Regions from separate parts of the Homo sapiens genome. Here regions 1 and 3 are each linked to region 2. The links come from fine-mapping of genetic effects on gene expression. A gene starts in region 2. Each other region holds a variant in brackets. All regions are shown on one strand. Distances are from middle to middle.

The links. PIP is the estimated chance that this variant, and not a neighbour inherited with it, causes the effect.
Region 1: its variant is the best candidate, but not a certain one, in a credible set for the expression of EFCAB13 in subcutaneous fat (GTEx, PIP 0.72).
Region 3: its variant is the best candidate, but not a certain one, in a credible set for the expression of EFCAB13 in whole blood (TOPMed, PIP 0.54).

The regions. Positions count from the first base shown.
Region 1 is chr17:47,238,900-47,243,142 of GRCh38, reverse strand. No RefSeq gene overlaps it. Among named protein-coding and RNA genes, the nearest start is that of ITGB3, 13 kb to the left of the region's middle. RefSeq lists an enhancer at 3,970-4,243. The variant G/A (reference allele first, on the strand shown) is at 1,879.
Region 2 is chr17:47,321,644-47,325,886 of GRCh38, reverse strand. It overlaps EFCAB13 (EF-hand calcium binding domain 13), which reads right to left and starts at 1,932. Exons shown (of 25, transcript NM_152347.5): 1 at 1,813-1,932; 2 at 1,364-1,433. EFCAB13-DT (EFCAB13 divergent transcript) reads left to right here and starts at 1,986. Exons shown (of 3, transcript NR_110880.1): 1 at 1,986-2,198. RefSeq lists enhancers at 1,144-1,323, 1,364-1,453 and a silencer at 1,794-2,203.
Region 3 is chr17:47,433,593-47,437,835 of GRCh38, reverse strand. The region is part of intron 24 of EFCAB13 (EF-hand calcium binding domain 13); the gene reads right to left. Among named protein-coding and RNA genes, the nearest start is that of NPEPPS, 95 kb to the left of the region's middle. The variant G/A (reference allele first, on the strand shown) is at 2,460.

The DNA of each region.
Region 1 (4,243 bases), 83 kb after region 2:
AAGTTACTAGACTGCCCTAAGCCTCCATTTCCTCATCTATGAAATAGAGTTAGAAGGGACATGATGGCTCATACCTGTAATCCCAGTGCTTGGGGAGGCTGAGGCAGGAGGATCACTTGAGCCCAGGAGTTCAAGACCAGCCTGAGAATCGAAGCAAGACTTCATCTCTACGGAAATGTTTAAAAATTAGCTGGGTGCACTGGCACACACCTGTAGTCCTAGCTACTTGGGAGGCTGAGGTGGGAGGACTGCTTCAGCCACTTAGCACAGTAATTAGCATGTAATAAGTATTCAATAAATGGTGGGCATGGTGACTCACACCTATAATCCCTGTGTGGGAGATTTTAGGTGTGAGCATTGTGGGAGGCCAAGGAGAGGATCCCTTGAGCCCAAGAGTTTAAAACCAGCCTGGACAACATGGTGAAACCCCATCTCTAAAAGTAAGTAAGTAAGTAAATAAATAAACAAATAAATAAGAGCTATTTTTTCCTCTTAGGATCAACTCATCTATGCTGGTTTAATCTACCCCCACATTCTGCCTACGAGTCAGGATACCTACTGATTTTCATTGTTGCTGCCCATCTCTAGCTCCCTGGACAATGTTGGCTGAATGGAGGCAGGAGGAGGTTGCATACTGTCTGGGTACTGTCTTTACCAGTCAAACTGAGCATCCTCTGACAGCTCCTGGATCAGGTCCTGTGCCCTGTGCCAACCCACGGGTGGATCTAGTGTCTAGTCCTTGGGCTTAATTAGTGCTGCTGGGACAAGTCCACCAGGTTTCTTCACCTGAAGTCCCTTGATGAGTTCCTGGGGATCTGTGAGGCCCCTCTAATATGCAAACATTTGTGTGATATGCATTTTTCTATAGAAATGCTCCTTAGTTTTCACTAGCTTCTCAAACGGGTCTGTGACCTCTAGGGTTAACAACAATTGTTCCACCTTCTTAAAGAACTAAAAGTAGATCTACCACTCCATCCAGCAATCTCACTACTGGGTATCTACCCAAAGGAAAAGAAGTCATTGCATCAAAAAGACACCTGCATGCGTAGGTTTATCACAGCACAATTCACAACTGCAAAGATACGGAATCAACCTAAGTACCTATCAACTGATGAGTGGATAAAGAAAATGTAGTAGTTGGGCATGGTGGCTCATGCCTGTAATCCCAGCACTTTGGGAGGCCGAGGCGGGTGGATCACCTGAGATCAGGGGTTCGAGACCAGCCCGGCCAACATGGTGAAACCCCGTGTCTACTAAAAATACAAAAGTTAGCTGGGGATGGAGGTGCACACCTGTAACCACAACTACTCGGGAGGCTGAGGGAGGAGAACCACTTGAACCTGGGAGGCAGAGGTTGCAGTGAGCCAAGATTGCACCATTGCACTCCAGCCTGGACGACAGAGCGAGTGTCGGTCTCAAAAATAAAAAAGAAAATGTGGTATATAGACATCATGGAATACTACTCAGCCATAAAAAGGAAGGACATAATGTATTTTGCAGTAACTTGGATGGAGCTGGAGGCCATCATTCTAAGTGAAGTAATTCAGGAGTGGAAAACCAAATACTGTATGTTCTCACTTATAAGTGGGAGCTAAGCTATGGGTATGCAAAGGCAAACAGAGTGGTATAATGGACTTTGGAGACTCAGAAGGGGGAAGGTTGAGGGGGTTGAGGGATAAAAAAAACACATATTGGGTACAATATATACTACCCAGGTGATGGGTGCAGTAAAATATCAGACTTCACCATTATACAATTCATCCATATAATCAAAAACCACTTGTACTCCAAAAGCTATTGAAATTTTTAAAAACATATCTATAATAAGAAAAAAAAAGAACAATTGCTCCAGAGGAATCCTAGGATCTAGAACACCAT[G/A]AGGCTAGTTTGGGCCACTGAGGACTCAGGAAGGCCCTTGCTATAGCCAATACCCACACTGTCAGCTATCTGCTTTCACTACTCCAGCCTGCCACTCACCAGCTTCTCTGGAGTAGCAGGACCTAGTCAGTTCTCCCAAATCTGCCTGAATTCAGTGCCAGTCCATTGTCCAGTCCCCGACATTTCTACTCAGCAGAGGGGGTTAACTCCACAGGTCTACTCCAGCCAGGGACTGACCTCCCTTCCCCCAACCCCACTTCCCCTCAGCACATGAGCTGCTGACCCAGGTCCTCTTCCCCAGCGTCTGGCTTTCCTCCATGGGAAGGAACTAGAATTTGAGAACACCTACCATATACCACCTTCTATACAAATATTGCAAATATTGATTATTTCCCTCAATCCTCATTTTATAGAGGTGCAAACTGAAGCTTGGTGGGCGAAGAGACAGTGATGATGATGATGATGATGATTTTACTAGATGCCATTTATTTTGAGGTTAGTGTGTTCAAGATACTATGCTAAGCATTCTTTCATACTTTTCTTTTTTTTAGTCTGCGGTAAGATACGTGGGGAAATCCTGATTTTACAAGTGAAAAAATGGAGGCACAGAGAGATGAGGTAATTAGCTCAAGAGCACCAGGGAGTTAGTGGCAAAGATGGGGTTCAGAAAAGTTCAGCCTGACTTCAGTGCTTACCCTACAACCTACTGTCTCCCTTACTGTAAGTGTGGGTATAGAATGTCAGGCACTCCCAAATGTTTCAAGTCAGCATTGCTATGATAATGGGAGAAATTCCTGTTTGTCATAAAACACTACTAGATTTCCCATTGTCTGAGATAAAATTGGGAAATCCATAAAGACATTATCTCTAGCGTCGCTGCAGCCCAGGCCAAGTCCAGGAATTCTGTGCCACTAGCCTGAGGAGGCACCCAGAGCTGGGTCAGTCCTACCCACCCCCAAGGGCTGCTCTATTTCCAGGTCCTGACCACTTCCTGTCTTGACTATTACAAGAAGTTACCAACCATGTCTGGCTGAATCCTGAGATATGATAGTGGCACCAGAAAAACCTGGGCATTGGGCCAAGGTCTGAGCTAAACAGAGGGCCCTTGGGATACAGCTTTTCCTTGAAAGGATGACAAACAGAGAGATGACTGTGAGCTGGAAGTATGATTAGCAAGCATGTCTCACTTCCCCCATGGCCCTATGTGTTTCCAACCCAGTAAGACCTGCCTGGAAGCCATGAGGCCTGAGGAAGCAGCCGTGAGGCCTCACCTCCTTCACTGCACAGGACCCCTGGCAGGAGCGCTCCTCTGCCTCTCTGGTCCTGCCTCCTCCCTCTCCTCTCCACCCCTCTGGCTCCATTCTCCTCGCTTCAGGGACTCAGATACCTGTGCCTACCCCAAGGGCTGTGTTCCCCGTCCCTGGGCAGTTACTCTCAACCGCCATCCTCTGTCTGCCTCACCCTGATTCTTTGGTCCTTCCCTAGGAACTCTTTGCCTGCACACCGATCCCTTAAATGCTCAGAGGATTCTGTACATGGTAAAACTTTCAGCCTAAGACCATTCTAGTTAATGAATGCCCTGTTTCCTAACGCTTTCCTTTGCTCAGGTCATAAAATGGACTCGTTGTGCCTCAGAATTCTACTAGGCAATGCACTGAATAAGATTTAAGCTAAGAGGACAAGAATGTTGATAACTTTACATCTGACATTTATTGAGGGCTCATTTTGGGCCAGGTGTTATTCTAATAAATGCCTCATACATATTACCTTGTAACATCCTCACAACATCCCTTAATGAGGTGGGTGTTGTTTTCATCCCCATTTTAGAGAGAAGGATGCCAAGGTGCAGAAAGGAAGAGGAGTCTCCAGTTCTAAACTCTGGCATTCTGGCTTCAGAGGCCAAACACTCAATAGTCAAGCCATACCCAGAAGCCTTCAATGCCTACACCCCCAAAAAGTAATTAATAATGGATATTTGGGGCACTGTGGCAGGTGACCATGGATACCCTTCAAGGTAGGGGGATAGAACTCCCAAAGTCCCTCAAAATCTAATTGTAATATGGCAGAGGATGGGAAGGAAGCATGTGAAGGTTTGGCTATGATATTAATTACATAGGTTATAAGATATAAGCCCCAGCTCTGTTTATCTGTGCCAACTTTTTAAGTTGTATTTTTTCATCAAGACAGACGGGGAAAAAAGTACCTTAAAAATATGAGCTAGCCAGGCACAGTGGCATGTGCTACTCAGGAGGCTAAGATGGGAGGATGGCATGAACTCAGAGGTTCGAATCCTCGCCTCTAAAATTAAAAATTAAAAAAAAAACCATAAAAATATGAGTGATTTTGTAGCAAGACTATCCTTACT
Region 2 (4,243 bases):
TTATGTTCTAGTCAGGGAGTGAAATAATAAAATAGAAAAATAAAACATATTGTATGTTATCTGCAATAAGTACAAAAAAAAAAGTAAAGCAGGGAGGGGAATATGAAATGTAGTATAGGGGAAGAGATGCAGGGAACAGAATGGGTGGCCAAGGAAGACCTTACTGAGAGGGAGACTTTTGAGTACAGACCTGCAAGAACTGAAGTAGGGAGCTGATTAATATCTTAGGGAAGAGCATTTCAGCCAGAAAGAAAAGTAAGTACAAAAGCCCCGAGGCAAGAAGAATGTTCAAGGAATAGTGGGAAGGCCCCAGGAGGCTGAAGCAGGAGAGATCAGAGAGGCTAAGTGAAAGTGGCATATCATGGAGGACCCCTAGATGACAGTAAGAACTGTGGCTTGTACTCTGAAGGAGTGACAAGCATTGAAAGAGTTCTGAGGAGAAGGATTACATAATCTGAAGTTCTTTCTGAAAGGATCACTCTGGTTACTGTGAGGAGGGAAATCAGGTAGGTCTGGGTTCCTGAATGCCAAGTGAAGAAAGTACTTCAAGAGTGAGCAATCAGGCTGTGCATGGTGGCTTATGCAGGTAATCCCAACACTTTGATGCGGGGGTGGGGGTCTAAGCAGGAGGGCTGCTTAAGGCCAGGAGTTCAAGACCAGCCTGGGCAACAGTGAAACTCCCACCTCTACAGAATTTTTTTTTTAATCAGCTGGACATGGCGACCTTAGTCCCAGCTACTCCAAAGACTGAGCCAGGAGGATCTTTTGAGCCCAGGAGTTTGAAGCTGCAGTGGGCTATGATTGCACCACTGCACTCCAGCCTGGACGACAGAGACCTTGTCTCAAAAAAAAAAAAGGGGGGTGGGGTGGGCGGTTAAGATCAGTACTGAATGGTTCGCTAGGTTTCACAACACGGAGGACACTGACAAACTTGAAAGGAGCCATCTGGGTGGGGTGGTAAGGAGACAATGTCGTCAGAGTGAGTACAAGAGAGAACGGGGTAAAGAAATTGAACCCAGCCAGTAGGGTAGGCTCTTTCAAGGAGTTACGTTGTTAAGAGAAATAAGGCAGTAGCTGAGAGGAAAATGGGGCTGTGAGGCTTTAAGATGAGAAAAACAAAGGCGTCTTCACTGAAGCATGACTCTGTATGACATCCTTTCACAAAATACCTTCCTCTTTCCTCTCATGCCACATTTCCCTCACAAGCCGCCCGACTCGCTCGCTTTTCTCTCGCCAGAGGGACTGAAAACGTCATTAATACCAACTGCATACACAACTCCATTGCAGCTACTGCCATTCATGAACGTTCAAACTTTCGTCACCCTGTTTTCATATTTGTGTAACAAACGTCGAGTGAACGAACCTCCACCTCTTCCAAGAACCCACGCTGAGGAGGCTTCCCATAGACCCTGCTCTTACGAAGCCAACGACTTCTACAGGAAGAAAGAGGACCTGTAAGCTAGCGAGTGAACGACCCGCAAGATGGAAATGAGTGTGCTAATAGAGGTCTCCGCCTCCCGCTGAAGGAGCAGGGAAGTGACACCACCCCCGGGACCGCCAGCCTTCTACAACAACCACCATTTCTGAGGAACCACCTGATCAGTCTCAGTCACCCTTCAATCTGCCCCTTTGTCCCACTCAGTCCCCTCACTGTTCCTTTCTGGAACCTTCCTTCACCCAGCCCCACCACTGTTCTCCTTCCTCCCTCGCACCCTACTGCATTCTCCACCCTCCACCTCGAAGGCTCCCCTCCCAACTCCTCAGCGGGTCTCGCCTCCCCTCCCCACCTCTGTCCCCCAAGGGTCCCACTACCGGCCCGAGCTGCCCTCCCTTCCTCTCGGCTGGAGGCCCCCGCGCTCTCTGTGGTCAGCCCCTGCCGCCCCTCGGGCGGCGCTGCTCTAGCTCTGCAGCCTTCCCAGGATCCCGCGCCGCGCGGCCCCGCCCCCGCGGTCACCTGACCGAGCCCGACGCTCCGCCCACCGACCACCCCGAGCGGAGCGGGCCCAGGACCCTATCGGCTGTCGAGCCGGTGCTGCCGCGGCCACCGCCACCGCCCAGGGGCTCCGGGGCTGTGGGGAGCGGCTGAACTCAATACCGCCTCCGCGCTGACTGGAAGGCACTGCGGCCGCGCCTGCCTGCCCCACCTCGTAAGGGCCTGTGACCTCACGAGGCCAGCCGCCGGGCGCTGCATTCGAGCGGTGGGGCTCCTGTCCGTGCGCTTTCCTCCCGCAGCCCCGGCCGGGATTCCGCCCTCCGTCCTTGCCACCCGCTCGCCACTCTTCCCTAATCGCTGTTCATTCTCCGGTGCGCTGTCCCGCCATGGTCTGACCCCACTTCAATCTTACCTTCGGTCCGTCCTTTGAACACCCCGACCCCCGACCCCTTTCTTCCAAAACATTCCATCCTTCTTGGCTTCTGCTACTCAATAATGGACAGCAGCTCGAAGGCCATGTGTCCCACGGCTTTGCTGAAATTTGTCTCGGGTTGCCTTTAAGGAGACTGTCGTTTCCTTTTGAAAGAGATACTTTGGTTGGTTTGGTTTTCTTCTGTGTGTTTGTTTTTCCTATGTATTTATCGTATGCAGTTGGGCAAAATACTTAACGCTCCCTGAGTCTCGATTTTCTCATTCTTCCAGGGTTGTGGGAATTCAAAAATATATACGTAGTGCTCAATAAATGTTACAATATTTAATCCCTTCCGTGATACTACTGTGTTCATTTACATCTTAAACCTTGCTTTGTAGGCATTCTTTAATATTTTATTTAGATTTTTATTATTATTAAATATATGTACAAATCATAATTGTAAATATTTAATGGGGTACAATGTTATATTTTAATATATGTATACAATATGGAACGACTAAGTCAAGCTTAACATATCCATCACCTTGTTTAACGTTTTTTATGGTGAGACATTTGAAATTTACTCTTAGCAGTTTTGAGATATACGATATATTATTATTAGCTATAGTCACCACACTATGCAATAGATCTCAGAAACTTGCTGCTTTTGTCTGACTGAACCTTGTACCCTTTGAACAGCATCTCCCCATCCTGCATCTCCTACCCGCCCCGTCCCTTTCCAGCCTCTAACAACTATTCTACTGTCTACTTCTATGAGTTTGACTTTTTAAGATTCCACATATAAGTGAGATCATGTGGTATGTGTCTTTCTGTGCCTGGCTTTTTTCACTTAGTATGTCCTCCAAGTTGATTCATGTTGTCACAAATGACAGAAATTCTTTTTTAAGGCTGAATAGTATCCATTGCATATGTTGATTCATGTTGTCACAAATGACAGAAATTCTTTTTTAAGGCTGAATAGTATCCATTGCATATGTTTACTACATTTTCTTTATCCATTCATCCATCGATGGACACAGGTTGATTCCATTATCTCAGCGATTGTGCATAATGCTGAAATGAACATGGAAGTGCAAATAAGTCTTTGATATACTGATTTCAGTTACTCAATATATGCCCAGAAATAGCATCGCTGGATCATATGGTAGTTCTATTTTTAATTTTTTGGGAAACCTCCATATAGTTTTCCATAATGGCTGTAATAACACTAACAGTGTAAAAGGTTTCTCCACATCCTCAGCAACACATTTTTTTCATCATTTTGATAATAGCAATTCTTTTTTTTTTTTTTTTTTTTTTTTTTTGAGATTGAGTCACTCTGTTGCCCAGGCTGGAGTGCAGTGGCACAATCTCAAATCACTGCAACCTCCATTCCTGGGTTCAAGCAATCTTCCTGCCTCAGCCTCCCAAGTAGCTGGGATTACAAGCATGTGCCACCACACTTGGCTAATTTCTGTATTTTTAGTAGAGATGGCGTTTCACCATGTTGGCCAGGGTGGTCTCAAACGCCTGACCCTCAAGTAATCTGCCCACCTCAGCCTCCCAAAGTACTGAGATTACAGGTGTGAGCCACCACACCCAGCTTAATAGCCATGCTAACAGGTGTGAGGTGATATTGTAATCTTATTTTGCATTTCCCTAATAATAGTGATTTTTTTTTTCGCAAACCTGTTGGCCATTTGTATGTCTTCTTTTAAGAATGGCTGTGTCAGGCTGGGCATGGTGGCTCACACCCATAATCTCAGCACTTTGGGAGGCCAAGGTGGGAGGACCGCTTGAGCCCAAGAATCTGAGACCAGCCTGGGCAACATAGTGAAGCCTCATCTCTACAAAAAAAAATTTTTTTTAAAAGTCTATTCAGATTATTTGTCTATTTT
Region 3 (4,243 bases), 110 kb before region 2:
AAACAAAAAACCAAAGTACTCAGACAACAAAGAATATGATGAATGTAACCATACCTCACATTTCAATACTAACACTGAATGTCAAAGGCCTAAATGCTCCACTTAAAAGATACAGAACTGCAGAATGGGTAAGAACTCACCAACCAATCATCTGCTGCCTTCAGAAGACTCACCTAGCACATAAGGACTCAAATAAACTTAAAGTAAAGGGGTGGAAAAAGGCATTTCATGCAAATGGACACCAAAAGTGAGCAGGGGTAGCTATCCTTACATCAGACAAGCAAACTTTAAAGCAACAGCAGTTAAAAGAGACAAAGAAGGACATTATACAATGCTAAAGGCCTTATCCAACAGGAAAATATCACAATTCTAAACATATATGTGCCTAACACTGGAGCTCCCAAATTTACAAAACAATTACTAATAGACCTAAGAAATGAGGTGGAGAGCAACACAATAATAGTGGGGGACTTCAATACTCCACTGACAGCACTAGACAGTTCATCAAGATAGAAAGTCAACAAAGAAACAATGGACTTAAACTATACCTTGGAACAAATGGACTTAACAGATGTATGCAGAACATTTCATCCAATAACTGCAGAAGACACATTCTATTCACAGCTCATGGAATTTTCTCCAAGATAGACCATATGATAGGCCATAAAGCGAGCCTCAATAAATTTAAGAAAATTGAAATTATATCAAGCACTCTCTCTGGCCACAATGGAATAAAACTGGAAATCAACTCCAAAAGGGACCTTCAAAACCATGCAAATACAAGAAAATTTGAATAACCTGCTCCTGAATGAGCATTGGGTCAAAAATGAAATCAAGATGGAAATTTTAAAATTCTTTGAACTGAATGACCATAATGACACAACCTATCAAAACCTCTGGGATACAGCAAAGGCAGTGCTAAGAGGAAAGTTCATAGCCTACATCAAAAAGACTGAAAGAGCACAAACTGACACTCTAAGGTCACACCTCAAGGAACTAGAGAAGCAAGAACAAACCAAACCCAAACCCAGCAGAAGAAAGGAAATAACAAAGATCAGACCAGAACTAAATGAAATTGAAAAAAAAAAATACAAAAGATAAATGAAACAAAAAGCTGGTTCTTTAAAAAGATAAATAAAATTGATAGACCACTGGTGAGATTAACCAAGAAAAGAAGAGAGAAAATCCAAATAACCCCACTAAGAAACAAAACAGGAGATATTACAACTGACATCACTGAAATACAAAAGATCATTCAGGGCTACTATGAACACCCTTGCGCACATAAATCAGAAAACCTAGAAGACATGGATACATTCCTGGAAAAATACAACTCTCCTAGCTTAAATCAGGAGGAATTAGGTATCCTGAACAGACCAATAACAAGCAGCAAGATTGAAATGGTAATTAAAAATTACCAACAAAAAAAGTCCAGGACCAGATGATTCACAGCAGAATTCTACTAGACATTCAAAGAAGAATTGGTACCAACCCTTTTGACGCTATTCCACAAGACAGAGAAAGAAGGAACCCTCCCTAATTCATTCTATGAAGCCAGCATCACTCTAATACCAAAACCAAGAAAGGACATAACCAAAAAAGAAAACTACGGACTGATATCCTTGATCAATGTAGATGCTAAAATCCCTAACAAAATACTAGCTAACCGAATCCAACGACATATCAAAAAGATAATCCACCATGATCAAGTGGGTTTCGTACCAGGGATGCAGGGATAGTTTAACATATGCAAGTCAATAAATGTGATACACCACATAAACAGATTAAAAGCAAAAATAACATGACCATGCAGAAAAAGCATTTGACAAATCCAGCATCTCTTTATGATTAAAACCCTCAGCAAAATAGGCATACAAGGGACATACCTTAATGTAATAAAAGCCATCTATGACAAACCCACAGCCGACATAATACTGAATGGCAAAAAGCTGAAAGCATTCCCTCTGAGAACTGGAACAAGACAAGGATGCCCACTCTCACCACTCCTCTTCAACATAGTACTGGAAGTCCTAGCCAGAGTAATATGGCAAGAGAAAGAAAGGCATCGAAACTGGTAAAGAGGAAGTCAAACGGTCACTATTTGCAGATGATGATTGTTTACCTCAAAAACCCTAAGGACTCCTCCTGAAGGTTCCTAGAACTGATAAAAGAATCAGCAAAGCTTCCAGATACAAGATTACTGTACACAAATCAGTAGTTCTTCTATACACCAACAGTGACCAAGTGGAGAACCAAATCAAGAACTCAACCCCTTTTACAATAGCTGCAAAAAAAACAAAAACAAAAACAAAAAAATCTTAGGAATATACTGAACCAAGGAGTCAAAAGACCTACTTGTAGTTTTTTAAGGAATCTCCATGTTGTTTTCCATAGTGGTTTTATTAGTTTACACTCCCACCAGTAGCGTAAAAGTGTTCCCTTTTCACCACATCCATGCC[G/A]ACATCAATTTAATTATGGCCATTCTTGTAGGAGTAAGGTGGTATCTCACTGTGGTTTTAATTTGCATTTCCCTGACAAATAGTGATGTTGTGCATTTTTTTCATATGTTTGTTGGCCATTTGTATATCTTCTTTTGAGAACTGTCTATTCATATCCTTTGCCCACTTTTTGATGGTTTTGTTTTTTTCTTGCTGACTTGTTTGAGTTCTTTGTAGATTCTTGATATTAGCCCTTTGTCAGATGTAGAGTTTGTGAATATTTTCTCTCATTCTGTGGGTTGTCTGTTTGCTGATTATTTCTTTTGCTTTGCAGAAACTTTTTAGTTTAATTAAGTCCCATCTATTTATTTTTGTTTTGGTTGCATTTGCTTTTGGGTTCTTGGTCATGAACTCTTTGCCTAAGCCAATGTCTAGAAGAGTTTTTCTAATGTTATATTCTATAATTTTTATGGTTTCAAATCTTTGATTTAAGTCTTTGATCCATCTTGAGTTGATTTTGTATAAGGTGAGTGATGAGGATACAGTTTCGTGTTTCTACATGTGATTTGCCAATTATCCCCACACCATTTGTTGAATAGGATGTCCTTTCTCTACTTCATGCTTTTGTTTGTTTTGTCGAAGATCAGTTGGCTGTATTTGGCTTTAATTCTGGGTTCTCTATTCTGTCCCATTGGTCTACATGCCTATTTTTATAACAGTACCATGCTGTTTTGATAACTACTGCCTTGCAGTATAGTTTGAAGACAGGTAATGTGATGCTCCAGATTTGTTCTTTTTGCTTAGTCTTGCTTTGGCTATGCAGGCTCTTTTTTAGTTCCATATGAATTTTAGGACTTTTTTTAGTTCTGTGAAGAATGATCATGGTACTTTGATGGGAATTGCAGTGAATCTGTAGATTGCTTTTGGCAGTACGGTAATTTTCACAGCATTGATTCCACACATCCATGACCATTTGTTTGTGTCACTGATACTCTCTTTCAGCAGTGTTTTGTAGTTTTCCTTGTGGAGATCTTTCACCTCCTTGGTTCAGTATATTCCTAAGTATTTATTTATTTTTTTTTTGTAGCTGTTGTGAAGGGGATTGAGTTCTTGATTCGATTCTCAGCTTGGTCATTGTTGGTGTATAGCAGTGCTACTAATTTGTGTACACTGATTTTGTATCCTGAAACTCTACTGAATTCATTTATCAGATCTAGGATCTTTTTGGATGAATCTTGAGGGTTTTCTGGGTATATGATCATATCATCGATGAAAAGTGACAGTTTGCCTTTCTCTTTACTGATTTGGATACCCTTTATTTTTTTCTCTTGTCTGATTGCTCTGGATCACAACAGACAGCAACTTTTAAACTGTGGTATTTGACAAAGTTTTGACATTTGTAAACACAAATAAACAATAATCACAATAAAATAATGAACATACTTATCACACCAAAAGGATTTTATATCATTTTGTCATATTTGTTTTGCTATTGTCTAAGAAATTGAGTAATTTTTAAAGTAAAAAATCCAAGAGAAAAGGAAATATGGAACAGGTGGCTGAAATAGAAAGTACTAGTAAAATGGTAGATTTAAAGCCAAATACTTTAGTAATCTCATAAGTGTAAGTTAACCACATGGTTTAATTAAAAGACATATTACTAATTAATTAATGGGAGTGAAGGAATAAATCGTCCCTGCCGAAGAATTTCAAATAATTTTAAAATGTAGAAGGAATGAGGGAAGTAGAAAATCAACATTAGAACAACACAGTAATAATTGCTACAGGCTAGCAATTCATCTGCC